7 linked regions of the Homo sapiens genome follow. The protein of the gene in region 5 interacts with the protein of the main gene of each other region in a pairwise test. Each region holds a gene or a part of one and is shown on either strand. Other genes may lie near its edges.

What was found.
Region 1: the proteins of SEC22A (region 5) and CD207 interact in binary tests that used the Homo sapiens proteins (3 or more experiments, as listed by UniProt).
Region 2: the proteins of SEC22A (region 5) and TP53INP1 interact in binary tests that used the Homo sapiens proteins (3 or more experiments, as listed by UniProt).
Region 3: the proteins of SEC22A (region 5) and TMEM79 interact in binary tests that used the Homo sapiens proteins (3 or more experiments, as listed by UniProt).
Region 4: the proteins of SEC22A (region 5) and TYRP1 interact in binary tests that used the Homo sapiens proteins (3 or more experiments, as listed by UniProt).
Region 6: the proteins of SEC22A (region 5) and HSD17B11 interact in binary tests that used the Homo sapiens proteins (3 or more experiments, as listed by UniProt).
Region 7: the proteins of SEC22A (region 5) and FAM174A interact in binary tests that used the Homo sapiens proteins (3 or more experiments, as listed by UniProt).

What each region holds. Positions count from the first base shown.
Region 1 is NC_000002.12:70,833,017-70,837,166, forward strand, and holds the start of CD207 (C-type lectin domain family 4 member K), read right to left. Parts: upstream 2,801-4,150; 5' UTR 2,761-2,800; coding exon 2,688-2,760; intron 2,592-2,687; coding exon 2,475-2,591; intron 1,005-2,474; coding exon 630-1,004; intron 36-629; coding exon 1-35. UniProt on the Homo sapiens protein: Calcium-dependent lectin displaying mannose-binding specificity. Induces the formation of Birbeck granules (BGs); is a potent regulator of membrane superimposition and zippering.
Region 2 is NC_000008.11:94,942,879-94,946,378, forward strand, and holds part of TP53INP1 (tumor protein p53-inducible nuclear protein 1), read right to left. Parts: exon of another isoform or gene 2,605-3,500; intron 1-2,604. UniProt on the Homo sapiens protein: Antiproliferative and proapoptotic protein involved in cell stress response which acts as a dual regulator of transcription and autophagy. Acts as a positive regulator of autophagy.
Region 3 is NC_000001.11:156,282,978-156,287,124, reverse strand, and holds the start of TMEM79 (transmembrane protein 79), read right to left. Parts: upstream 2,801-4,147; 5' UTR 2,719-2,800; intron 1,942-2,718; 5' UTR 1,899-1,941; coding exon 1,142-1,898; intron 866-1,141; coding exon 652-865; intron 493-651; exon of another isoform or gene 338-492; intron 1-337.
Region 4 is NC_000009.12:12,691,968-12,696,184, forward strand, and holds the start of TYRP1 (5,6-dihydroxyindole-2-carboxylic acid oxidase precursor), read left to right. Parts: upstream 1-1,417; 5' UTR 1,418-1,511; intron 1,512-1,944; 5' UTR 1,945-2,029; coding exon 2,030-2,414; intron 2,415-3,547; coding exon 3,548-3,870; intron 3,871-4,217. UniProt on the Homo sapiens protein: Plays a role in melanin biosynthesis. Catalyzes the oxidation of 5,6-dihydroxyindole-2-carboxylic acid (DHICA) into indole-5,6-quinone-2-carboxylic acid in the presence of bound Cu(2+) ions, but not in the presence of Zn(2+).
Region 5 is NC_000003.12:123,267,943-123,271,289, forward strand, and holds part of SEC22A (vesicle-trafficking protein SEC22a), read left to right. Parts: intron 1-3,347. UniProt on the Homo sapiens protein: May be involved in vesicle transport between the ER and the Golgi complex.
Region 6 is NC_000004.12:87,381,189-87,384,688, reverse strand, and holds part of HSD17B11 (estradiol 17-beta-dehydrogenase 11 precursor), read left to right. Parts: intron 1-2,326; coding exon 2,327-2,434; intron 2,435-3,500. UniProt on the Homo sapiens protein: Can convert androstan-3-alpha,17-beta-diol (3-alpha-diol) to androsterone in vitro, suggesting that it may participate in androgen metabolism during steroidogenesis.
Region 7 is NC_000005.10:100,538,374-100,541,873, reverse strand, and holds part of FAM174A (membrane protein FAM174A precursor), read right to left. Parts: intron 1-3,500.

The sequences.
Region 1 (4,150 bases), on a different chromosome or scaffold from region 5:
CTTCCAGCCTTGAGAAACCACCTGTAGAATATCATCTAGAGAACAAGAGGTAAAAGTGAACGCTGGTATTCTTGATTTCTTGGGATGCTGGCTTGGTGGGGGCACTTGAATGAGGTCTCAGAGACAGCAGCAAATGGAGCTGTGCGCTGGTGTCCTTGGGTCCTTGTATAGGAGATTAGGGACACTCTTTCAAATCCTGAAAGTCAGACAGAGACTAATAGAGTCTCTGGGACTGGAGAGGTTATAATGCAAGAGGTTGGACAAAGAGTGTCTTCCCCATGATGAGGAAGCAACCCTCCATCGGCCATGACAAGTGGCTGAGCCCCTGGACTCTAGAAAGGAACTTGATGGGAAATGACTAGGTGTGGGCCAGGGTGGACATCCCCTAATGCTTTTACATTCTGCACTTTTGTGTGGGAGCTCTAGCTGGACCCTGGTCTCTTTTCTCCTAACAGCCCCTAAGTCCTCCCCAACCTCAAGCCCTCTCTCCTTAACTTCCTAGCCCATGGCTGCCCCTCTTTTGCCCCCACTCTCCTCCCCAACCCACCAGCCCAATGGCCTCAGGTCTGGGACAGGTAAGATCCCATGGGCCACTGGTCAGCTTCAATGTAATTTTCTGAGTCACTTACTTTGTCGTTTGAGCAACTTGCTCATATTCTCCAAGCTGCCCTGGAGTGCCCGGATCTTTGTATTTAAAGCACTGGCTTTCTCCAAATCACTTTTTAACTCTGGGATTTGGGCATTTAAGGTACTGACTTCTTCCCAACTTCTTGTTAAGATCTGGATCTGTGCGTTGGCCTTCTCCACACTGGTTTTTAACTTCAGGAACTGAGAACGCACATAACCCAGGCTCTCATTCACCATCTGGATCTGAACGCCAGCTGCCTCCATGCCGTCACTATTCTTTTTAATTTCAGAATCCAGGGTGCTGATGTTGTCCACACGACCTTTCAGCAACTGGACATTGGTCTTTACATCTGATATGGTGCCCATAAACCGGGGATCTGGGATTGAGAAAGTCAGGAGGTCAGCTGAGGGGAGTCCCAGGGACAGGAGTGGGGGTGTTGTCAGGTTGATCAAAGGAAGGGAAGGAATAGGCTGAAGCTTCCCAAAGAACCAAGACAGTCCAATGGGCCACCCCAACCCTCCAATCATTCATTAACGTACAACAAACGTGCAATGGGCACCTACCATGTGCCAGGAACACAGGTGGATACAGATAATGGGGAGATTGATAAAACACAGGCTCTCTGTGAAAAGATTTCACAGGCAAGCAGAAGCAGGAGTTAGAAACCATTCCTGAATTTTCTGAGTGTTCAGGGAACATTTGATAAAGGGTGCCCTCCATGAGCCCCACCACTGTCCCCAGAACTTGATTCCCCCTAGACCCCACCCCTTGGTTGCCATCCCTCTGTTTTCAGAAACCCCTGCAGTGGCCATCTGCTAGGACAGCACCACTCCCCCACATCTGTCCATGGGCCCCTCTGTGACCATGGGAAGAACCAGCCACTAATCTGGAAGTGGCTTCTCCAGAGAACATGGAAGAGGAGATTACAAAACTGTTTCTCCCCTTCCCTTGCCCCACCCACTTTCACATTCTGCTCAGGTCCCAGGCCTGGGTACCAGAGAGAGGATCAAAGATAAACCAAGAGGCTCAAAGGCGAGCCCTGAGGAAAATGCGATGTTAGAGGCCAGGGGTCTAGGATGGGGCAAGGGGGACTCTGCTCAGAGCCTACAAGTCTAAGCCCAAATATGTCCCGAGGCCACAGAGGGAGAAAAAAAAACCCAACAGCTTCTTGGGTCCCTTTGCTCTGCTTCCTGGAGCCCTGGCAGGAGGAAGAAGGCTCTGCCAGCAGCAAAGGCCATGAAGCCTGACAGAGCCAGAAAAGGAAGAAAGATAAACCATGCAACATCAAATGAGCAGGAAGCCTCCCTAGATGTGATCTTCACAGGGACAGGAGAATGAAGACAGCACCAACGAGTCCTGGGGAGAGGGGACTGAGTCATGGAGATCTGTTGGCTCGTTGGCCAGGCTCTCCATCTGGTGAGCTGGGGCCAATGATACATGAGGCTCGGTCCTTCACAGGGTCAGGAGACATTGCACTGTCAAGGACTGTCCACAAGGCTCTAGATCCAAGGAGCAGAGCTCAGATTGGTGGGGGGTGGACGGGGAGAAAATAGCACAGGATGTAAAACTAGATCAATGTTTCCTGAGGACAAAAGAATGTATCCTTGAGCACCAATGTGCAAATGCTAATCCCAATAATCTCCCAGAAATTGGGAGGGAAAGAGCATCAGCTCACCGTACTGGGGGCAGCACAGCCTGTTACTGCACATGGAAAGAGGAGGAAGGAGACAAATGAAAAAGCCACAGGCAGGAGAAACCCGGAGAGCAGGGAAGTGGTCTCGATCTGAAGGGAGCCGGCTGGCCACAGAGAGGGGCTAAGCCCAGACGATGAAACATGAGGACTTACAAAGGACGGCCTGCAGCAGGACGGAGGCGACCAGGACCAGCGTCAGGCAGATTAATGCAGCACGGACTGTGGGTGTTTTCCCCGGGACCAGAGATGGACCGGACTTGGGAGGAGGCTCTGTTGGAAGAAGAAGAAAATGTGTGTTGAAGGAGCAGCAAAGGGCAGGTTTGCACACAGAACACGGAGCAGGTTCTCAGCAGCGATGTGGCTTGCCTCGGGGCCAGAGGGAGATGTTCTGTTTGTCCACAGTGAAGTGCGCATCAGGGGCCTCCTTCTCCACAGTCATCCTGAGTGCTCACCCTTATCCTGGGAGCACAGGTGCTTCTGGCTGCCTGTCTCTCCAAGGGCTCTTATCTAGAGGAAACAGGAAGTCAGTCCCACAGCAGGTCACCATATCATCCCAACTTCCCTATTCCTGACTAGATACCTTGTCTGGCTTACTCCCATCCTCAGAAGTCTGAGCTTTCAGGAAGAGGCCATTTGTTGTCTTCTCTGGGGGTCTGTTACATGGATACATTAACCATCTTGTCCCAAACCTATCCCATTTCTCTTGTAAGACTCTCGTCATCCATCCACCCATCCATTCACCCCACAAATACAGGCTGAGTGCCTTCTAGGTACTGATGCTCTACCAGGCATAGGGCCACAGTGATGAATAACTCGCAGTCCTTGCACCAAGCAGCTCATAGTCTGGTAGGAAAGACAGACATGAGCAAATAAATTGCAAGGTGATGAGCACAAGAGACAAATATGCCCAGTTCAAAGAAGCATATGAAATGGAGTAATGGGAAAAAAAAAAATCCAGTAGAAAGATAAGCATATGCCAAAGGATGGAGCATAAGATAGCATGGAGTGCTTGGCAAATTGTAAATAGTTGCAATATTGCTGGAATGTAAAATATACATTCCAACAGGAAGGGGATGCACACGGGGTTGAAGAGGCACCTGGGGTCTGATGATGAAGATCCTTCTGATCATGTCAAGGAGCTGGACCTCTGGCTTGTGGGTGACATGGGGCCAATTAAGGACTTCAGGCAGGAGAGAGACAAGGACAGGGACACTGTAGAAACATCACTCTGATCCTGGTGAGGAGCAGACTGGTGGGGAGAAGCCTGGAAGCAGAGATACCAAATAGGCAACCATTGCAATAGAATATCCTGCTTCCTGTTATTAATGCATCTTGGCTGATACAATATCCCTTTATAATATGCAACTTGGAGATTCAAAGTGTAAACCTAAGACTTGGGTTCTCCTCCCTGCTTCCTGCACCATGTGAGATTTTCAAAAAAAGTAGGGGCGCTCAGCAACCTCAGACTAGGAATCGTTCTGTTTCTCTCTCCTCTCTCTCTGTCCGCACCTCCTCTCTCCTTCTTTGTAGTCCTAAATAGAGAGTTCCATATGTGCAAGAAGCTCAGGGCACAGAAGAGCTGATTTGGGCTCAATGAAGGACTAAATTTTCTCCTGGGCGGCTTCTCATGCTTTGAAGAAGTCTGCCAAATCTGAGAAATTTGGCACATGGCAGACTCTAGACAAATATTTCTTGGAATATAGGAAAGAGGAGAGGAAAGAGGGAGGGAAGGAAAGAAAAAAGAAGGAAATTGGTCCAGATAATTGGAGGATGGGTGAATGGATGAATGGATGGATAGAGGATGCATGGATGGATGTGTGAATGGTAAG
Region 2 (3,500 bases), on a different chromosome or scaffold from region 5:
GCTAGGGGAGCTGAGCAGGAACCAGGTCCTGCAGGGCCTTGTAAGCCTGGAAAAGGGGAAGGGAAAAGTCAAAGACCCAGGTTTCTGGCTTGGCCAACTGAGAGGATGGTGGAACCATTTAGGGAAACAGGAATGAATCCTGCAGAAAGTACAGGTTAGGCATTTCGAATATGGTAAATTGGGGGGATATGCAAAATAATGCAGTTGGAGATGTCCAGCAGGCAGCAGGATATAGAGCTTTGGAGCTCAGGAGTGTGGTCTCAGCTAGGGGCATAGATTTGGGAGCTGATGACACAAAGACAGTGATAAAAAGCATAGGAATGGATGAGGCTAGGTGTGGAGGCTCATGTCTGCAATCCTAGCATTTTGGGAGGCTGAGGCCACAGGAATGCTTGAGCCTAGGAGTTGGAGACCAGCCTAGGCAACAAAATAACCTGTTTCTACAAAAAAATTTTAAAAAATTAGCCAGGTACAGTGGTGTGCACCTGTAGTCCTAGCTACTTGGGAGGCTGACGTGGGAGGATCTCTTGAGTCCAGGTTCAAGGATGCAGTAAGCTATGATTGTGCCACTGTACTCCAGTGTGAGTGACACAGCGAGACCTTGTCTCAAAAAAAAGTTATATATATGTATGAGATCATCCAGGGCTGAAGAAATGCACCTCACTAATCACCACCTCTTTTTATCACAAGCATCAGCCTTGAATCTACAACTTCAGGCTCCTGACAGTTCACTTTCAAAATAATCTTTAGCTGTAAAAGTAGTTGGGATCTGTAGCTAATGAGATTCCTGGTTCAGTTCCTTGTGTGTAAACTGAACTGCTACAGTTGTTTGGCACACTACTACACAAGTTAAACATTTCAAATAAATAACATTAGAACACTTTGTGGTCACAATTCATCTTCTTCAGCCACTAATTATTAAAAATAGGTAAACAGGAAGTGTCACTTGCATAACCAGTCTTCCTGAAACCTTCTGGAAAGCAGCACGGCCAAATCATGAAGGCTGGAGCTGTAGCAGAATTCAAAGTCAGCTTTATGCTCTATGTAAGAACAATCAGAAGAAAAGTGTAGTTTGTTTGACCTGCTGTGGTGTGATAGTTATATTCCAAAATAAGTTATCATAAGGTCTGATGTAAATAAAGATTTTTGAGGATACATGCTTAGAGGGAAAAACATATTTTCAAAATCCTTCCTCCATTTATTTTAAATTGTGGAGGCAGATATTGGCCCCACGTACAATTCTGTGTCTGCTGAACCAGTTGAGAGAATAAGCCCAATTCTGCAGAGCATGGTGCTGGACTCTAGCCCTGAATCAGCTAAAGCCACTGGGAGGGGAGAACCACACAGGGGAACCTTTGCTTGTCCTGAACGAATGCCTTGTCCCCAACCTGTGATGCTGCATGAGAGTAAGGCACTGGGGCCCAGGTCAGATAACTGGCAGCTGTAAGGCCAAAAAACATTGCTGGGGCCACTGCAGTTGTGACAGCTGCTGGGTTCCCACATGCAAATTGCCCCCTCTGGCCACAGGTCCAAACCCAGGAAGGCAGCTTCTGCCTGGAATATATGCAAGTAGCAAGTAAGATACAGGAAAGGCTTCTCTGGAGGAGCTTTCTAGGGAGCAGTACAAGTCAGTGCTCTTTTGGTTTCCCAAAGTCAGAGGCTGCCTCCAGATGTCCCATATCTCTGCAAGGACAACCAACCTTGGGCGACAGAGTGCTCAGAAGCCCAGCCAAGTGAGGGAGGAGCTCATCCTTCATCTCACTCAAGCCACTGCTGGTGTTTACATGGCACATCTGCTGACACCCGTGGGAAGAACACAGAATGGAGTTCCTGGGGAGGGTTAAAGGGGCCTGGCCATCCACAGCAGCAGTTCTGGCTGTGGCTCTACTACAGGTGGCTGGAGCTAAATTGGCCCTTCTGAGCTTCAGTCTCACTGTTGGGAAAATGGGGAGACTGCGCTGAATCACCTCGTCACTCTCTTTCCCCACAAACTTCTAGCACAAAAAAGTGAGGCTGGTTTAACTAGCAAAGCCAAATTCCTTTGGCCCTGCTTTCTGCAGGTGTCACAAAAGGCAAGGAGCTATTGGAGAGACCCTCCCCCCATTGCTAAAACTGTCCACTGAGGTAGCCACCAGGCACACTGTGCACATGAACACTTGAAATGTGACTAGTATCATCGAGAAACTGCATTTTTCATTTTACTATTTAATCCATTTACTAAGTTTAATCCAGTTAAACTTAAAAGCTGATAATTTAGTTTTTTGAAAACTTTCAAGTATGTTTGGAACAGTTAGGGTATGAATCTACTTTTTCACCTATAAATTTTACGAAGTCTAAATATAGATCAAGTACTTCAAATGAAAACTTTGTATCTGAATTGAGATGTGCTGTATATGTAAAGTACACACTAGAGTGTATTTCAAAGACTTAGTACCCCCCAAAATGCAAAACAGTTTTTATATTGATTACATGTTGAAAAAATAATTTTAGTATATTAAATACATTAATAAAATTAACTTCACCAGTTTCTTTTTCCTTTTTAAATATGGCTACTAGAAAATTCAAACATACATGTGGCTCACATTATCTATTTCTGTTGAACAGGACTGTTCTAGAAAAAGTCTTAAAGGCCTACCCTCCTACTGATGACCCAGAGACTGTCCCTGCCCAGTCACTGCTACTGTTGACCTTGGCTCCTGCCCAGGGATGGAGGCTCTCAACTGGGCTGGTTCTACATGGAGGTAAATGGAAAAGTAGAGCTTTAGACTCCTCTCCTCCCCAGATCACCACTAATATTCACAATGCTAGGGCAATCATAGAACGAAAATAAAAATTCCAGAGAAAGCATGTGTCCTAAGAGGACAAACTTACAAATACAGTTCTGGAATTCAGCAAAGAGGTGAAGCAAAGAAGGTTAGGTGAAGTAGCGCTGTTGTTCTTTGAACAGCTTTAACCAGCGTCAGTCCAGCAGTTTCCCCGACAAGAGAAAAGAACCCCTCAATACAGAAAAGAAACAAAGTGTCTGGGCCCTAGCATTTCAAGAAGGCAGCTTTGTCCTTGTTCTGCTTGGCTCAAAAGACCTCCATCCCTCCCTTTAAAAAATAAATTATGTCTTTTCAATTATAAACTGAACAAAACCACATTATAAAAAGTCTAGAAAATAAGAAAAATAAGTATTATTCCATTGCCTTGTTCCCACCACTTAACACATTGGTGCCTTTTCTTCTGTTTTTTTTTTTCTTCTACACATAAGGCTTCTTTTTATCATAGTTATAGTCTTGTGAATGCACTGTTTTGTATCTCACTGTTACTTAACATTTTATCATCAATGGTTTTCATATTATTACATGAGTAGAGATGCTTTGTAGGCAGAGAAAGGTGGCTGACTGAGTCTAATACTCACGGGGAAGAGCATTCTAGTTTGACCACTTAGAAAAGGAACTGCTAATTTGGAAGATCTTGTTAGCATAATTTATTTTGTCACTTTTAAGACAGCCCAC
Region 3 (4,147 bases), on a different chromosome or scaffold from region 5:
TTGAGATGAAGTCTAGCTCTGTCGTCCAGGCTAGAGTACAGTGACACGATCTTGTGTCACTGCAATCTCCACCTCCTGGACTCAAGCGATTCTCCTGCCTCAGCCTCCTCAGTAGCTGGGACTACAGGTGTGCACCACCATGCCCAGCTAATTTTTGTATTTTTAGTAGAGACAGGGTTTCACCATATTGGCCAGGCTGGTCTCGAACTCCTGACCTCAAGTGATCTGCCACCTCGGCCTCTCAAAGTGCTGAGATTACAGGCATGAGCCACTGCACCCAGCCTTGTCTCTATTTTGAAAAAATATATCTATTTTTAAGTTGTACATTTGGTTACAGGGGGTGTTCAACCAGAGACCAAAACAGCTACCTGACCAGATTGCCACAGGAGTGGCTGCAATGGGTGCATTGATCTAGATGACACCTGAAAGCCTTCTTGTTCCATATGGTTATATATGTCTCTGAAATCGGCTTCCATCTGCTGACCAGCTGAGGTAAGGTGCAAGAGAGAAGGTGGACTTATCTCCCCAGGGCACACATTTGGGCCAGTGTAGAATCCGGAAAGCTCCTGACCCTGGCTCTCCAGACATTCAGATGCCTAGGTTCTCTAGCACCATCCCCTCTCCCATGCCCCACCCTCTGCCCCAACTTACCGGGAGACGGCAAAGAGACCAGTGAGCAGAGGGAGCAGTTTGAGGGTATCCTGGGGCAGGTAAGTGGAAAGCACGGCCAGGTTGAAGAAGTAGAGAATAAAGAGCTGGACCGACTGGGCCACATATCGCCGGTGGATCTCCACCTCCCGCCGTGGCTCCCCAAAGGGCCGAAGGGCAGAAAAGCATAACAGGCTCAGCCCGTACACCAGGATCCCTGGGTGGAGTTGGGAAACAGGGTAGGGTCAGAAAAGGCAGGGGAAGGGCACAAGAGGCAGTAAGCTGGGGGCAGATTCACTGTGGGCAGTGCATGGGCTCTACACAGTGGGGTGGAGGTGGTCCTGGGAGGAGATGGGCATGCAGACTGGCAGGGGGTGGGAGACCCTGAGGGGCCCAGGTCAAGTGAAGGGAAATCCTCCTGCTCCCCACACCAGCCAGGCCCTGCCCTCCTCAAGTCCACTTCCCGATGCCCCCTTTCTTCTCACAGGCTCACCCAGCACAATGGGGAAGGTGGCAAAGACCCCGCAGCGCAGTGTGTAGATCAGGCGGGAACTCATGGTGGGCAGCCGTGGGACATCAAACGGCAGGAAGGCATATGCCCCGTATAGTAGGCAAGGGAAGAGAATGAGTGCGGCTCCCACGGAGGCCACAGCCCTTAGCCACTCACGGTCTCCACAGCTCCCGCAGCCCCCACAGGAACAGCCAGGCGGCCTCACCACTGCCTCAGCCCACTTGCGCTCAGTGGGGTCGGGGTGGGTGACCCGGGGGGGCATGAAGGTTCGGCACTCGCCCTCGCCTGCCTCACAGCGCACGATAAGGTCTTCTTGGGGCTGCCGCTCAATGCACTGTAGGTCAATAGGCACGAAGGCACGGGCCGCTTTCTCAGGCAGCAGGTTGGCATCGTCTTCGGGCAGCTCCTCTAGCTTGGTAAGTGGTTCTGACTCAGGGGGCTCTGGTTCAATGTCCCGCCAGCCAGGGGGATCCGGGAACGGAGCACTGGGCTGAGGGCCAGTCCCCCAGGGCAAGGTGGCAGCCTCACTTACTGTGCTGTCTAGACCATCCTCAGCCCCCTCTATGGCTGTGGGAGATCCAGCTGAAGACCCCACTCTGAGGGACTCAGCTCCCGGGGATTCGGCCCCACCTTCCCCTTCTGGCTGCCGGCCATTGGGAACCAAGGCCTGGGGTGAGCTCTTCTCTGGGGAATCAGACCTCTTCACTTCCAGTAGGGCCAGGGTCTCCTGTTCTGTCATCCTGGGGCCTCAGTTCTGGGATCTACCACAAGGTCATGTCATCCTGCAGGGAACAGAGGAAAGCTCTGTCAGAAACCCCTGTCTTCTAGTTATTAGGACAGGTTGACAGAACTCATACTCTCCAGGGCAACTGGCTTCATGGGTTTTGGCCCCTTCTGGAGCCTTAGGGAGAACGTGGTACAGAGGAAGACACTGAAACAGAGGGAGGAGGGAAGGAAGTGAGCAGCTGAAATGGAGGCACCCTTTCGACATCAAATGCCGTCCAACAGGAGAGGGTGAGTCAAGGGACACAGGCCCTGGCAGCTGTGAACTCAGTCAGCCTCCACCCACGCCTTCTATGCCCCTCCACCAAAACCCCTGGAGTCATGGCCACTCTAATGCAGGAATAGGAGGCAGAAGAGGTGTCTAGAACTTTGCCAAGTTTCTTTCCCACTGAGGATCTTGCTGTAGACAGAGAAGCTTCCTCTCCACTGTCCCATCCCTACACATCCCTGCTTGGAACCCTCCTGCATTCCAAGTGAGACCAGTGATTTGCCAACTGATCTGACCCAAAGAGCTGGCAGTTCCAGGCACCCTCTTCCTTCACTGGTACTTGGTCAGTTCCCAAACTCCTCACTAGCCCACCTCATCCATCTCTGCAGGGCCTGGGTCTGCTATTCTGATATTTAGGTCTGATCATGGCTGTTTTCTATGCCTTCTCTCCTGTCTTTCTCTCCTCCCTGCTGCCCTCCATCTCATTGCTTCTGGATGGGACTGATTCCCTTCCTTTATCTCAAGGGCACTCCAAACCTTGCAGTTTGGACCCATGACATCCTCTTACTTTCCATATGGAGTGGAGGGTCCCCAGCGTCTGTCCATCCGTCCGTCCGGGAAGGAGCTGCCCAGCTACCTGCTGGCTCTGCAAGTATTTCTCTCTGTCTCCCTCCCTTTACCTGTGTCTCAAAACCTGTCTGACCAGAGCAGGTGGGGCCCAGCTTAAAGGGGCAGGCCCCGCCCTGCTGAATCTGCCGACAAAAAAAAGCATCAGAGGAGGATGTCATCCTTTCTGAAAGTTGGGATGCAGCTGGGCAAAGGGGTAAGTTCACATTCTAGGCACCTGGAATGCGTAAGAACTCCCAGCTCAGGAAAGCAGAGGGAGAAAAGTGGATTTGTGCAACAAAGGGTGCTCGGAGTAGGCTGGGATACCCAGAAATGGAATTTGTACACTTATTCATTCAGTAAATACTTACTGGACACCAATTATTAGCTAGGCAGACACAGAAGAGAACAAGATGACAGTTGAGGTCTCTGCCCTTGAGAAGCTTATGTTCTATTGGGGTAACATAATGAAGAAGCCTAGCAACTAAATCAATTAGACAATTTTAATAGGAAAGACCTCTTTGGTAAGGTAATATTTGAGCTGAAACCTGATGGGAAATCAGGAGTATGAGTGTTACAGACAGAGGAACAGCAAGTGAAAGACCAATGGATGGGAAAGACTTAGGCTGTTTCAGGAACAGAAAGAAGGTGGGTGGCTGCAGCCAGGAGCATAGTGGTAGAAGGGCAATTTATGTTCTCATTACAATTCATACACAGGCAAAAACAACAACAACAAAACAAACCACCCTTGCTTTTTAACTTAGGTTTTAAGCTAAAACAAGACAAAGCAGTCACGCTCCTAGCTGTAAGCCCACCTGCCCTGATTTCCAATGTGAGGATTAGGAGATAGAAACGTTAGGGACTAGCTTCTCATTTCTATGAGTCCTTATCCCTAAAATCATTTGAGCTTTGGGAGGGCAGGGATAGTGTCTAGCTTGCTCACCTCTGTGTGTCTAGAATCTTGCACTGTGGCTGGAAGATGGCAGTTCAATAAATGTTACTGGCTCGTAAGAGATAGATATGCAAGCTGGAAATCTTTGGGAGGGGAGCTGAAGGGCCGAGACGCTTGTACAAGTCATTTCTTCCGGGGCTTTACTCCTATGTGATGCTCGGCCCTTTCCAAGGAAACTTTCACATGCACTTTTTGTTTGTTTAAATTATGGGGGAAAAGGGAAAGCTGGAGTCACTCTAACCAGTAATCTGAAAGAGGCTTGGCTCAAACGGGGAGGCGGGAAAGGGGCAGAAGGATGGACCAAATGACCATTGTAGGACAAAGCAGTCACGCTCCTAGCTGTAAGCTCACCTGCCCTGATCCAGTTAAGCTTTGGCCGCCTCAGTGGGTACACTGTCCGTTCTCTGATAGCTTTGCCAATAAAGTTTTTCGCAAGGGT
Region 4 (4,217 bases), on a different chromosome or scaffold from region 5:
GATATTAATCCCTTGTCAAATGGGTAGTTTACAAATATCTTATCCCATTCTGTGGGTTGTCTCTTCACTTCATTGATTGTACTCTTTGCTGTGCAGAAGATTTTTAACTAGATGTGATCCCATTTGTTCATTTTTGCTTTGGCTACCTGTGCTTGTGTGGTATTGCTCAAGAAATCTTTGTCAAGACCAATGTCCTCAAGATTTTCCTCAATGTTTCTTCATTGTAGTTTCATAGTTTGAGGTCTCAGATTTAAATATTTAATCAAATCATTTTTTATTTGATTTTTGTATATGGAACGAGATAGGGACCTAGTTTCATTCTTTTGCATATGGGTATGTAGTTTGCCAGCACCATTTATTAAAAAGACTGTCTTTTCCCCAGTGTATGTTCTTGGTATCTTGGTGAAAAATGTCTTTACTGTAGGTGTGTGATTTTGTTTTTGGGTTCTCCTGTTCCATTGCTCTATGTGTCTGTTTTTAGGCCAGTACCATGCTGTTTTTGCTACTATCACTCCGTAGTATAATTTGAAGTAAAGTAATATGATTCCTCCAGTTTTGTTATTTTTGCTTAGGATAACTTTGCCTCTTCAAGGTTTGGTGTTCCATATAAATTTTAGGATTTTCTTTCTGTTTCTGTGAAGAATGTCTTTGGTATTTTGATAGGAATTGCATTGAATCTGTAGATTGCTTTAGGTAATACGGACTTTTTAACAATCTTGATTCTCCCAATCCATGAACATATAATATTTTTCCATTATTTGGTGTCTTCTTCAATTTCTTTCATCAATGTTTTGTAGTTATCATTATAGAGACCTTTCATTCATTGGTTAATTCCTAGGTATTTAATTTTATGTGTGGCTATTGTAAATGGGATTACTTTTTTATTTCTTTTTCACATTTTTCACTGTTGGTATATGGAAACTTTGCTGATTTTGGTATGCTGATTTTGTATCCTGCAACTTTACTGAATTTGTTTGTCAGCTCTAATAGTTTTTTAGAGGAGTCTTTAGGTTTTATTCAAATATAAGATCTTATCATCAGCAAACAAGGATAATTTGACTTCTTCATTTCCAATTTGGATGCTCTTTATACCTTCTCTTGCCTGGTTGCTCTAGCAAGGTAATATGTTGAATAACAGTTGAATAACAGAATAAAAAAAAATCTCTGCAAAGTAAACAAATCTCACTAGTTTATCTGACTTGTATTCCAAATTAGTGCTTCTGGCCTTTTCTTAAAACTTTAAGCATCACAAGGAAATCAGTTGGAAGGGAATCATGTGCTGATCAAGTCCTTAAAGGGCAGAAATATTCACTGAAGTGAAAAGGATTAGTAAAGGGTGGAAAAAAAGACCAGCCCCCCGCCTAGTTTGGGTGAGCAGATTTGGGATTAATTATCAGGCAGCAATCCACATGCACTTAACAGTTCTGACGTGAGAGGACAAGAAACACAAGCAAATATAAAACATTCAATTCTAAGAGAAGTTCATCAGAGACATCCTTCAGGATTGTGAGGTACTGGAAAGAAGTCCTATGGGGAGTGGGTGGACACGTGCCAAAACTCCATTAGTGTAAGGGACTTTAAATCACAGAAATTAACTTGCTGGAAATCTGTTCCCAATTCTTCCTTCAGCTCCAAGGTTAAATTAAATGTAATTAATGATGGTGACCTGCTAATTCATGCTTTTGATAACTGATATCTAGTATGTATATATATATAAACAAAATGACGAGGACAGGGAATTTAATTATTTGGGTATCACACATGCAGGTGTTATATATGCCAAATTTTAAAGGTAAAATTTGTGTGAAATGTCACACTTTTATTATTTGTGTGAAATGTCATTTTACATATGGGTTCCATTTTGAAAGTGGTTTGGGAAGGGGGCATACCATTTTAAGTACCAAGAAAAACTTGCATAATCTCATTTTACTTTCTCTTTTTCAGCTGGATTTTCCTCTACGTGCTTCAGTCTTCTCTACACAAAGAGCTGCAAACCAGGTCTTTGTTTTGCACTCTTATTTCAAGCAGAATGAGTGCTCCTAAACTCCTCTCTCTGGGCTGTATCTTCTTCCCCTTGCTACTTTTTCAGCAGGCCCGGGCTCAATTCCCAAGACAGTGTGCCACTGTTGAGGCTTTGAGAAGTGGTATGTGTTGCCCAGACCTGTCCCCTGTGTCTGGGCCTGGGACAGACCGCTGTGGCTCATCATCAGGGAGGGGCAGATGTGAGGCAGTGACTGCAGACTCCCGGCCCCACAGCCCTCAGTATCCCCATGATGGCAGAGATGATCGGGAGGTCTGGCCCTTGCGCTTCTTCAATAGGACATGTCACTGCAACGGCAATTTCTCAGGACACAACTGTGGGACGTGCCGTCCTGGCTGGAGAGGAGCTGCCTGTGACCAGAGGGTTCTCATAGGTAAGTGGAGATATGAATGAGTTCATAAGTCCTGCATGAGACTCAAGGCTCTTAATAAAATCTTAAATCATTTGAGCTGGAGGAATACCTGGAAATCATATAGCTCAACCCTCTCTTTTCATAGTTGAGGAAACTGAGGCTTAGAAAGGTTAAGAAACTTGTTTAATGTAAAGGGTTGGAGTTGAAGCTCAGAACTTCTGATCAATATTTTATTCTGAAACATTTATTGAGCAACCACTATATCCTAGGAACTGTGTTAGGTATTATGACTAGTCAATTCAGTAACTCCTTCAGGTAAACATGTTAATTGTCATAGATGAGGTTCAGAAAGTTCAAATCCACACAGGTGATATTTAGTAAACCTGGAATTCATGCTGAGATCTACCTAGCCCTTATATTTTAGTTCTGCAACTACCCCTGCTGACCCTTAAAGAAGTTTCCCACCATGATGATCAAATTCAGCATTTGAGATGAAGAGTTTGGCCTGCAGACTAAATAGCATTAAATAACAAAGCACTAAACAGTAACAGCCAACAATATTTGATTGTGTTCTATGTGCGAGATAGTAGACTAAGGGTTTAAATGAACATGTATTGAGTCCTTACTATGAGTTAGGCCTTGGGCTAATTGCTTTTTATGTGTGTGGTCTTTGAACTTTCAATTCTGTAAAGCAAGTATTATTTTTATCCACATTTTAATGATTAAAAAAAAACTAAGACTTGGAAAAATGTGCCCAAAGTCATAGAATAATTCTCTGGTCTTAACTACTATGTTATATCACCTAATTTTCAAAGATTTATAATGTTAAAAAGACAGAAAATTCCAACAAAAATGCCAACAGTGGGCAGAAATCAACATGACAAGGTCACAGAAACATAAAATCCATAGGTAAGATTAAAGAAAGGTAATATAAATCATGCAGTAAATTGGAGAGAGAAAAGGGAAGAAAGAGAGAGAAAGCAGGCTTGAAGAAAGGGTTTTAGTTAAGGATATTTTTAAAAGTGTAAAATAATTTAAAACACATTTGAACAGATGGATAAATGGGTCGTGGTGTGTTACAAGATGATTATGCTCTTTCTCTACCCATCCCCGCAAGGCAGATGTTTTCATGCTTGAATTTTGTATCCCTAAAGTCAGGAGAAATCTTCTGGACTTAAGTAAAGAAGAAAAGAACCACTTTGTCCGGGCCCTGGATATGGCAAAGCGCACAACTCACCCTTTATTTGTCATTGCCACCAGGAGATCAGAAGAAATACTGGGGCCAGATGGCAACACGCCACAATTTGAGAACATTTCCATTTATAACTACTTTGTTTGGACACACTATTACTCAGTCAAAAAGACTTTCCTTGGGGTAGGACAGGAAAGCTTTGGTGAAGTGGATTTCTCTCATGAGGGACCAGCTTTTCTCACATGGCACAGGTACCACCTCCTGCGTCTGGAGAAAGACATGCAGGTATGTAAGAAGCATTTCAGTTTGCAGACTCTTTACAGACAAGATGCCTTGTTTGTAAGTGATTTTAATTCACTAGTTTTCAGAATCATCAGAACATTTGATGAAAAAGCAATTTTATGTTACTAACCTGTCTTTGGCATTTCGTTTTCTCCTTATTTTGGTTACTTGTTAATTAATCTTTATCTTGGTGAAGTGAAAATAAAGCAAAATCAATAATGAGCAAAATGAGACATTTGCAGGAATGAATTAAAAGTTTAAAAATATTTTGCAGTTTCATTGAAAACATGACTTTCATAAAGCTTGAAACAGAAGAATCTCATTTGCATGTCTTCCTTCTCTACTAAATA
Region 5 (3,347 bases):
TGAGAAATGAATTATCTTGTTACTGTCAAGTGAAAGTGGGTGTCCAGAGTCCCACGTGTTCTCCACTGATATCACAATAAGAGGGTAGAGGAGGGATTCATTGCCATCTAGTGGGAATGAAAGTCCTGGCTTCTACTTGCCTTTTCTGAAGCCATGCTGAAGGGTTAAAACATCTGCTTATAATGTTCTAGGCTCTCAACATTTGATGGTGTGGGTATGGGTGGGTCACAGGGGTTTTTTGTGTGATGTTTGGCTAGAGGATAATAGTTACTGTTTAAAAGTTTTCTGTCTTGCTAAGGTGCCTCTTTCCTGGTCTTTTACCAGAGAGAGCAAGATGTTATTGAGGGTCTTTTTTGTTGTTTGTTTTGATATGCATGCCTTGGCATTTCTAGTTGCCAGCTTCTTCAGCTCCAAGTCTGGGATATATGAAGCAAAAAAGAAAACTCAGAGAACCTACCACTGTGGCATTCTTGGATCTCAAGATTCTTTATTTGTCTGCTTTTCCTCCACAGTTCAGAGTCTTCTTATGCTTGTTTTACATATAATGTCCAGTGTTTTTATTTGTACTTAGTGGGAGAAATAGGGAAAAGTGTGTCTACTCCATCTTCCCAGAAACAGAAGTCCCTGAGCCGTTGTTTTTAAAGTAAGTTACAGACATCATGATATTTTTTACCTTAAAATACTTCATGATGTATCTTCTAAGAATACAGACATCTGTCTACATAGCCAGGACTTCATATCACATCTAAGAATTTAACATTGATACAATATTATCTAATATATGATTCCTATTCAGATTATTTCTGTTGTCTCCAAAATGTTTTCTGTGGCTATATTTCTCCTGATCCAGGATTATGCATTTCATTTGATTGTCGTGTACCTTTTGATCTATGATACAGTCTCCCAGCCTTTTTGTTGTTGTTCTATTTTAGTTTGGTTTTATCTTTCTTAACATTGACTTTTTTAAGAGTTCAGGCAAGTACCACAATCTGGATTAGTCTGTTACTCGTGATTATATTAAGGTTAAATATTCTGGCAACAGTGCTGTATAGTATAATATGCTGAATATCTCTCATTGCTTCAGTCAGGAAATGTGATAAGTTTGATCATTTGGTTAAGATGGTGTCTACCAGATCCCCATTGCAAAGATATCTTTTTCTTCTTTGTAATTAATAAGTAATATGTGGGGTAGAGACCTATTATTTTAAAAGCCTTGGAAAACCTTGAATTAAATATATGTGTGTGTGTGTGTGTGTGTGTGTGTGTGTGTGTGTATATATTACTGGAAATGCTAGCTCATTTTTACAGTAGCATTCCAAGCAATAAATATAGATAAAAAATGGAAATATAAAATCACCATTAAGCGAACACCACAGTAATCATTGTTGCAGGCAAGAATCATTAATGGATACTAAAATTAATGAGCAAAAGTATGATGAGATAAGATATTCACATAATCTCAACTCCCTGCCCCCAAGACAATAATTGCAAAGGGAATAGATACCACCTTATTAAGTGATCTAATTTAATATGTAATAACATGTATTGCGTATCACCTCTGATATTCTTGCCAAAATTGTATAACCTCATTTCAATCTTGACAAAACATCAGACACACCCAAGTTGAGGGACATTCCTACAACATAACTGATTAATACTCTTCAAGACTGTCAAGGACATGAATTTTTTTTTTTTTTTTTTTTTTTTTGAGATGGAGTCTTGCTCTGTTGCCCAGGCTGGAGTGCAGTGGTGTGATCTCGGCTCACTGCAACCTCCGCCTCCCAGGTTCATGCCATTCTCCTGCCTCAGCTTCCCGAGTAGCTGGGACTACAGGCGCCCGCCACCACACCCGACTAATTTTTTGTATTTTTAGTAGAGACAGGGTTTCACTGTGTTAGCCAGGATGGTCTCAATCTCCTGACCTCGTGATCCGCCTGCCTGGGCCTCCCAAAGTGCTGGGATTACAGGTGTGAGCCACCATGCCTGGCCAAAAATTTTTTTAAAAAAAGATGGAGGAGCTGTTACAGATTGGAATATACATGACAATTAATGCAATACAGAATCCCAGATTAGATTCTGGACCAGAAAAAGGACCCTAGTGGGACAATGGGCAAAATCTGAATAAAGTCTGTAGATTAGCTAAGAGTATTGAATCAATGTTCATTTCCTGGTTTGATGATTATACTATGATTACATAAGAGGATAACGGGGAACAGGGTGAAGAGTATACAGTAAACAAAGCGTATACAATAAACTGTTTTTGCATCTTTAACTCTAAAATTGTTTAGAAAGAAAAAGCTATTTTTTTCTATTTTTTCAGTCTTATATGATGAAAATCACTGATAAATACTTCCAATTCATTTTGCTTGGATAGCAGTCTTCTTTTTAAGTAAACAGTCCAAATTTGCATAAGAACTAAACATATTTAACAGAACATTTCCACATTCTTTCTGCATTATAACAGACACTGGTGTGTCCTTCCCATTCTGAAGCCTGGACACAGTTTCTCAGAGAGACCTGGGCCTCTCTCTTAGACTTTGTGGTTCCTATACTTACCAGGTTGTGAATTTTAGACATCTTCTAGAAAACAGTTTATTCACTCAACACATTGAGCACTTACTATGTCCCAGGCACTGTTCTGGGCACTGGAGATAAATGAGTAAATAACAGTAAAAAATCTCACCCCTCATGAAATAGATTCTGTTGAAAGCCTATGGATGACAAACAAAATAAGCACATTTCTCAAGTATGTTTATAGTATGTTGTGGAGAAAAATAAAGCAGTAAAGGGTGAATGCCAGGATGGGCAGGAGCGGTGAGAGGGGGAGTACTTTCTTGACCGTTTCATCTAAAATAGCACCCACTATCATTCTTACTCCCTATCCCTTTTTCCTGCTTTCTCTTTTTCAAGACATAACTGTTTGATATTATATATTTAAAATACATTTATAATTCTTCCCCATTAAAATTTAATATTTATATGAACAAGGGCTTTGTTTTACTTACAACTGAAGAACAATGCCTGACTTGTAGCAGGCCCTGAGTAAATATTTGTTGAATGAATTCTCCCTCAAATGTTCAGTCAGATGCTGTACCTAGCATAGTTCCTTGTACTCAGTGGGCGACTAGTAAAATGTTGTGGATTTTGTTAATACTCAGACTCAGGTTATATTAAGAGTCCATTTTGTAGAATAGCTTGTATGTGCTTTTTTGTATTTTCCTGGGTGAGAATGGAACACCCGCAGACCCTGGGAATGCTTCTTAGTTGCCTGTCACCATGGGGAATTTGCTCAGCCTGTTTGCAAGGAAGTCATTCCATTGTACTTCCATTTAAAATATGATACAAAA
Region 6 (3,500 bases), on a different chromosome or scaffold from region 5:
TCCCCACCCTAATAAGCCTGATAGTACTGCAGGAGACCAGGGCGTATCTCAGTCCTTACCTCAACCACATAGGACGGACATTCCCAGAGCAGCCATTTATAGACCTCCCCGTAGGAATGCATTCCTTTCCCAAGGTATTAATGTTAATATTCCTTGCTAGGAAAAGAATTTAGCAATATCTCTCCTACTTGCACATCCGTTTATAGGCTGTCTGCAAGAAGAAAAATATGGCTCTTTTTTGCCCGACCCCACAGGCAGTCAGACCTTATGGTTGTCTTCCCTTGTTCCCTAAAAATCACTGTTATTCTGTTCTTTTTCAAGGTGCACTGATTTCATATTGTTCAAACACACATGTTTTACAATCAATTTGTACAGTTAACACAATTATCACAGTGGTCCTGAGGTGACGTACATCCTCAGCTTATGAAGATAACAGGATTAAGAGATTACAGGCATAAGAAATTATAAAAGTATTATTTGGGCACTGATAAATGTCCATATTAAAATGAAATCTTCACAATTTATGTTCTTTGCCGCGGCTCCAGCCGGTCCCTCCATTCGGGGTCCCTGACTTCCCACAGGAGAAAAAGAACTTGTTTCCCTTTATTATCATAACAGTTTCACTATGCAAGCTACTAATTCTCCCCACAGCTGTCCAGATTTGGCCTTTCCAACATTAGTTGCCATTTACAAATGTGTACACTGATTCACCATCCTCTCTGTGGATAAATGTATGAGTCCTCCTAGGGTCTGCCCATTAGTGCATTAGTTGACAATTATTAGGTTGATGCAAAAGTAATTGCAGTTTTTGTCATTAAACTAATGGCAAAAACAGCAATTACTTTTCCAACAACCTAATACTTGGCCTGCAGAATGCACAATACTAGATCTTCATCCAAAATATCTTTTGAGACATTCTCTTAAAAGTTAAAAAAAAAAAAAGGCAAAAATTGGCCAAAAGCAAACAAGCAAAGATAACAACAACAACAAAAAACCCCAATGGTATGATCCTAAACTTAAGTTGACTCAAAATTGGCGCCCCAAATTGGACTCATAACCCCTTTTCCTCAAATCTGCTGTCATCTCTGTCTGACATGTGGCAGCGTGATCTTGCCAGCTACCAAAACTAGAAAGCAAAGATGTCAGATGTGGCTCCTTCCCATCCTTCCTCATCTACTCACCAAGTCTTACTGATTTTACCTTCTAAACATATATTTTAAAGGATATTCTTTCCTCTACATTTTTTCTACTAATGCCACATTTCAAGTTTGTGTCATCTATTACCTGAATCACTGTAACTGCCTCTCAGTTTTTTTCTTCCTCCAGTGTTGACCCCTAAAATCCACCCTCCATACATCAGCCAAAATAATCAATACGACACATAAACCTGACACTATAATTTAATCAGTGGCTCCTCATTCATTTTTTGATAAATCTTAATATGACATGTGGGACCTTAATCTGAACTTCTTCTGGCCTTGACCTTTATGATCCATCCAACAACACTAATCCTACTAGTGGTTTCCACAAGACCAATCTCCTATCTGTCATTGCCCACACCCTGCCTGATGTGTCCTTTCACCCTGGGGAAAGCAAGTGAAAGGGCATGGCAAACCACTGCTGGAATTGTATTGTGTGCCCCTCTGTGTTCCCGTAACTCCCTGTATAGAACTCTGCTGTGATACTCATCACAATGTATTAGGTTGAAACTGCCAATATTCAATCTTTTATTATCAAAACAATAACAGTATTACGTGGTCCTACTTAACTATGATACTTATGTTTCTTTCTACTACACAGAGAACTTCTTGGGGTCGGGACTCTACCTCATTCATATTTGTGTCAAGGTTTTTCTAAGCTCAGTGAATATGACCTTCACATTAAAATGCTGAAAGAACAAATGGTTTAATGAACTGTGGTTAACTCATTATTTCTTTTGCAGACAGTAAACTGACATCCATGAATAGTTTTTAATGACATGGAAAAAAGTTTAATGTTACATTTTTTAAAGCCTGATATGGAATACACAGAGATACCAACATTCACAAAGTATTCAAAGTTCATAAATATAAAAACTAGTATTTTAAGATTTTTATCTTCTTTTAAGAAGCTTGCTTTAAATTCAGCTCCAAATAAAAGAAGCTAGTCAAAATACTAAAAGCAAAATGTGCCTATATACCTGCCAAAAATGTGTTGTTAACAATCTTGCCCAATTCAAATGGAAAGAATCTCACTACTTTTTAAAAATTATTTTTAATTATTTTCAGCTGTCGATATAATATGTTCATATCAATTATTACCTTGCCCTCTTTTTTGCTTTTTCTAGCATGGACTGGAGGAAACAGCTGCCAAATGCAAGGGACTGGGTGCCAAGGTTCATACCTTTGTGGTAGACTGCAGCAACCGAGAAGATATTTACAGCTCTGCAAAGAAGGTGAAATGTTGTGTTTAGTTAGAATCATATCATGTTAGAGCTAGGAGGTGTTTTGGAGATGACCCAGTCTGTACATGATATAGATGAAGTACCTGAGAAATGTTGTTATTTGACCAAGGTTATAGAACTAGCTCATAGCAAACCCAAAACTAGAACCGAGAACTGAACCTCTCAAATATTAGTATGTTCTGGAATTTTCCAGGGAGTTGTTAAAAATGTATATATATACTCTTGGGCTCCACTTCCAGAGATTTTCTTTCAGTAGGTTGAAGGCAGGGCCTCAAATACATCCACCCTGCCTCCCATGCGCCTTCATCTCACCCATGATGCTCATATAGGTAACTATGCCTGGATGACACTTGCAGAATTGCTGACAGGGTCTTCTGAAGCCCATTCATAGAATTGGGTTAGAAAGTTACAATAAAGCTATTCTTTATCAGGTTTTTATTGTAGATAGATCTATTTCTTTTCTTTTCTCTTTTTTTTTTTTTTTTGAGATGGGGGGTCTCACTCTGTTACCCAGGTTGGAGTGCAGTGGCATGATCTCGATTCATTGCAACCTCCACCTCCCAGAATCAAGCAATCCTCCCACCTCAGCCTCCCAAGTAGCTGGGACCACAGGTGTGTGCCACCACGCCAGCTAATTTTTTGTATTTTTGGTAGAAAACGGGGTCTCACCATGTTGCCCAGGCTGATCTCGAACTCCTGAGCTCAGGGGATCCACCCACCTCAGCCTCCCAAAGTCCTGGGATTATAGGCATGAGCCACGCTCCCAGCAGATCTATTTCTATAAAGCATTATTTGCCTCTTCTAGATACAATTGAGATGTGCTGTATATAATGGGGTTTCACTCTGAACGCATTCTCGCTTGTACCTGTTAACTAAATACCTTAATGGCAGCAAGGTCATCAGAATTACCTGGGCAGATTCCTTAAAATACACATTCCTGGACCTTACCCCTGGATATTCTAATTCAGTGCAGTATAAAAAGTGTGATTCAGCAAGACTTGAGAACCTCTTTGTTTATGGAATTTTTGGTTTGAGTTCTTTTTTTTTTTTTTTTTTT
Region 7 (3,500 bases), on a different chromosome or scaffold from region 5:
AGTAAGAACCAGTGCACTGAGTGCTACAGAAAAGGGGAAAATATCCATGAAACTGAGACAATGTGCTTATTAACCATCTTCTGCATGAGTAATTCTAGAGTGGTAGAATTAGAAGCCAGACTACAAAAAGCATAAGAGAGAATGAAAGGCATGGAAATGGGAACATTTCAATGGAAAATCTCTCTCCTGTCCTATGACAAGAGCTTTATTTAGATTCCCTCCTTAATGTCTTCTTAGGTATCTTCCTTTCCCATATCTTCAATATTTCCTTCTGTACTTGCTCTTTCCCCACTAATGGCATTTAAACAAGACTGGATAGTTCATTCTTAAATGGACCCCTTTCTACAGCTCTCATCCAATACTTCTCCCTGCCTGCACAGTTAAGAGTGAAATGAAATATATCCAAGCAGAAAAGGTCAACTGAAAATAGATTCAGTTACAGGGCAAGTTTGTAAAAGATTTATGCTGATTAGAGATAAATATTTAGTCTTCTACAAAAATATAATAGTTTTTGTTATGTTATGAAGTGGCTTTTCAGATGGCTTTGTCTAACAGGAATGATATTTAAGAGCAGCCTTCTCCAAATAGCTTCAGCTCTTGCTGCCACATTCCCAAAAGTTTAGTTTATTACCACAAAAAGCAGTGGTACTCCTTCACTAGATAAGCTCCTTGAACACAAATATGATGTCTTTATTATCTTTGAAGCCCTAATATTCAGAAGTTTGAGAGATATAACAGTCATTCAAATTTATCAGAAACAGATTTGTGTGGGCTTAAAGGTGGCCCATATGATAACTTGTCAAACTACTTTACATAGTCCACATTCAGCATTGTCCTACAAATCTCCTGAGCCAGGGTGTCATACAAGCAAATGGCTATTGATGTGGTGAAGCAAAGATCTCCTCAGCTCTTGAGATCACTAGGCAGTGTCTAAGGTGGATAGTATCAGGGCAGGTAGTCTCATACATTTACCCCGTATAGATATCAATGTCTATATGTGGCATTACATGAGCAAGCATTGCTCTGGCCTCAACGCCCCCAACAAACTAGTACATCTCCACTTTTACCTCCCAGAACTGCACACATAACAAATATCACTTAAAAACAGAGCATTCTATTATCACTTCACTTATGATATGATAATCATATCAGGGATTATGATCCCTGACATATCAGTTATGTCATCATCTTGGTATTTTGGCACTTGACCACATAGCAAACTAACTTGACACTTTAAAATATTTTAGGTGTATGAGTAAACATTTTGTGAAGGGAAGTTTCACCTTTGCAAAAAAATATTCATTACTTGCGAACTAGTACTTGTTAAATACATTTCCAAGTTTCTGGGTCTCTTTATATAGAAAACATTTGATATACACTGACTAGCTAAATAAATAATGGCAAACCAGGACAATTTACACATGTTAGGAAAACTCCACTTTCCAAGGAGATATGAACAATTATAATGGAAGTTCCATGAATGCAGGGACTTTCCTTGTGCACTACTAACCCTCATCACAGAGCTTAGTAATGGCACCCAATAGGTGGTAAATAATATTTACTGAATTAGTGACAGTCACTAAATACATAAATGGTTAAATAGTCAAAAGTACTCCTGGTTTTGCTTAAATTAAGTGATTTCTATGGATGTTTTATAATTTTGTAAATAGGGCTGGTACCACAAGACTTCTAGGAGAAAAAGAAAACAACTCATATTCTTAAGTAACCAGACAAAAGAGAAATGGTGATTAAAGTCACATGCATAAATCATTAGTGACTTGCTCCACTAAGGTGGAAATATGTGTGACCATATTAACAGACGTTTCTTTAAAATATTACCATTCCCTGACTATGTGTAGTAAATCAGGAAAATCTTTGGATGAGGGAAGGAATGCAGGGAGTTGAGGTAGGAAACAAAATTATTTCACCTTGGCACAAATATGATGATCAATAAATGTTAACTCACTTTTCAAAAAGGTAAAATTTGGAGGTTTAACATCCAACAAAATCATGTGTTTTAAACAGAAAGGCACTGGGCATATACTATCCACTTTATTTTTCTCCATAAATAAGCTAGCCATCTTTATGTGCAATATCGCTTTAAATTGGTTACTTTAAATGATCACAGGAAGCAGCATGATGGTTGAACATGTTAGGTAAGTTCCAGCAGAGCTGGGTTTGGGCAGGTCCTGTATGTGCACGCTTGGGCAAGTTATTTAAACTTGCTCAGCCTAAATTTCCTCAGTAAGAATGATATTACCTACTTTGAAGGTTTTTGCAAGAATTTCAAAATGCACATAAAGTATGCGGTATTATATCTGACACATAAATTATCAATTAACTATCAGCTATTAGGATGATAAGTAAAAGCTCAAAAATAATCTTTCAGTTACAAAGTATGGTTCTTTGAAAAAACCTAACGTTGTGTCTTAGCGTATAGGGTTGGGTAAGCATTCAAATTAAATTAATATTCTTTATTTCCTATATAATATGTATTAATAGGATCTGCATTTTAATGCCTTTTCATAGCATCCTTTATGTACTTATCTATGTGATTATTTGGTTAATGCCCCTCTGCTCCTCTAGTATATAAGTGTTATAGAAGCAGAAATGTTTGTTTTGCTCAAAACTGTATCCCCAGTGCCCAGTACTGGTCAGTTGAATAAATATTGACTGCTTAAATAAAGGCTATCATAATAAATTTCATGCTCATCTCCACTATATGAGCATGAGCACCATATTTTCTTGAAATTGGAAGAGACTTGCTAAAGAGCATAGAGATTTTTTTTAAAAAAAGTAGAGGGTTAAACTTTTAAGCATCGATTTCCTTCCAATATACCAAATTGAATAAAAAACGAAAAACCAACGACATGGCATGAAAAAGGAAATAATTCCCTGCTTTTAAGGCAAGAATCATTATTCAGCTATGACAAAAATTGCTTTATATAATTACCATACGTGCTAAAACCAACAACCATCTACAGTGATTTCCCCCCACCCCCGCTCCCTGGCCTTATACATTTTACTGTGGAGAGAATGTCCTACTGAGAGGAAGGAAATAAAAGTATTAATTGAGATCTTCGCAGTTCTTTGTTCCGTCAGTAAACAGCAATTATCCTTAAATTTCCAAATCCTTACCACCTACCTGTTCAGCAATATAATACATGAAGAGTGCTCATCCATTAGGCAACTGCTTATTCAGTGCCCATCATATATTGCACATGATGTTTAGCACTGAGGATATAGGGGAGAATAAGACAGAAAAGTCTCTTTTCATAGAGATTAAGTGTTCATTTTAGGCAATCTACTTTGTCCCTACCGTGTTCCTTGCATATATATATATACACTTACATATATATATATATGTTTTGTATTTCTACAGTGAGAACCTGACTGTTCTTTGGAATGTTTCCAGACTCAAAAAGGAAGTTATTATTACCTACATATTCATTATAAATGAATTAGATAAAAACAAAACTATTTGAAAGTCTCATGTAGTT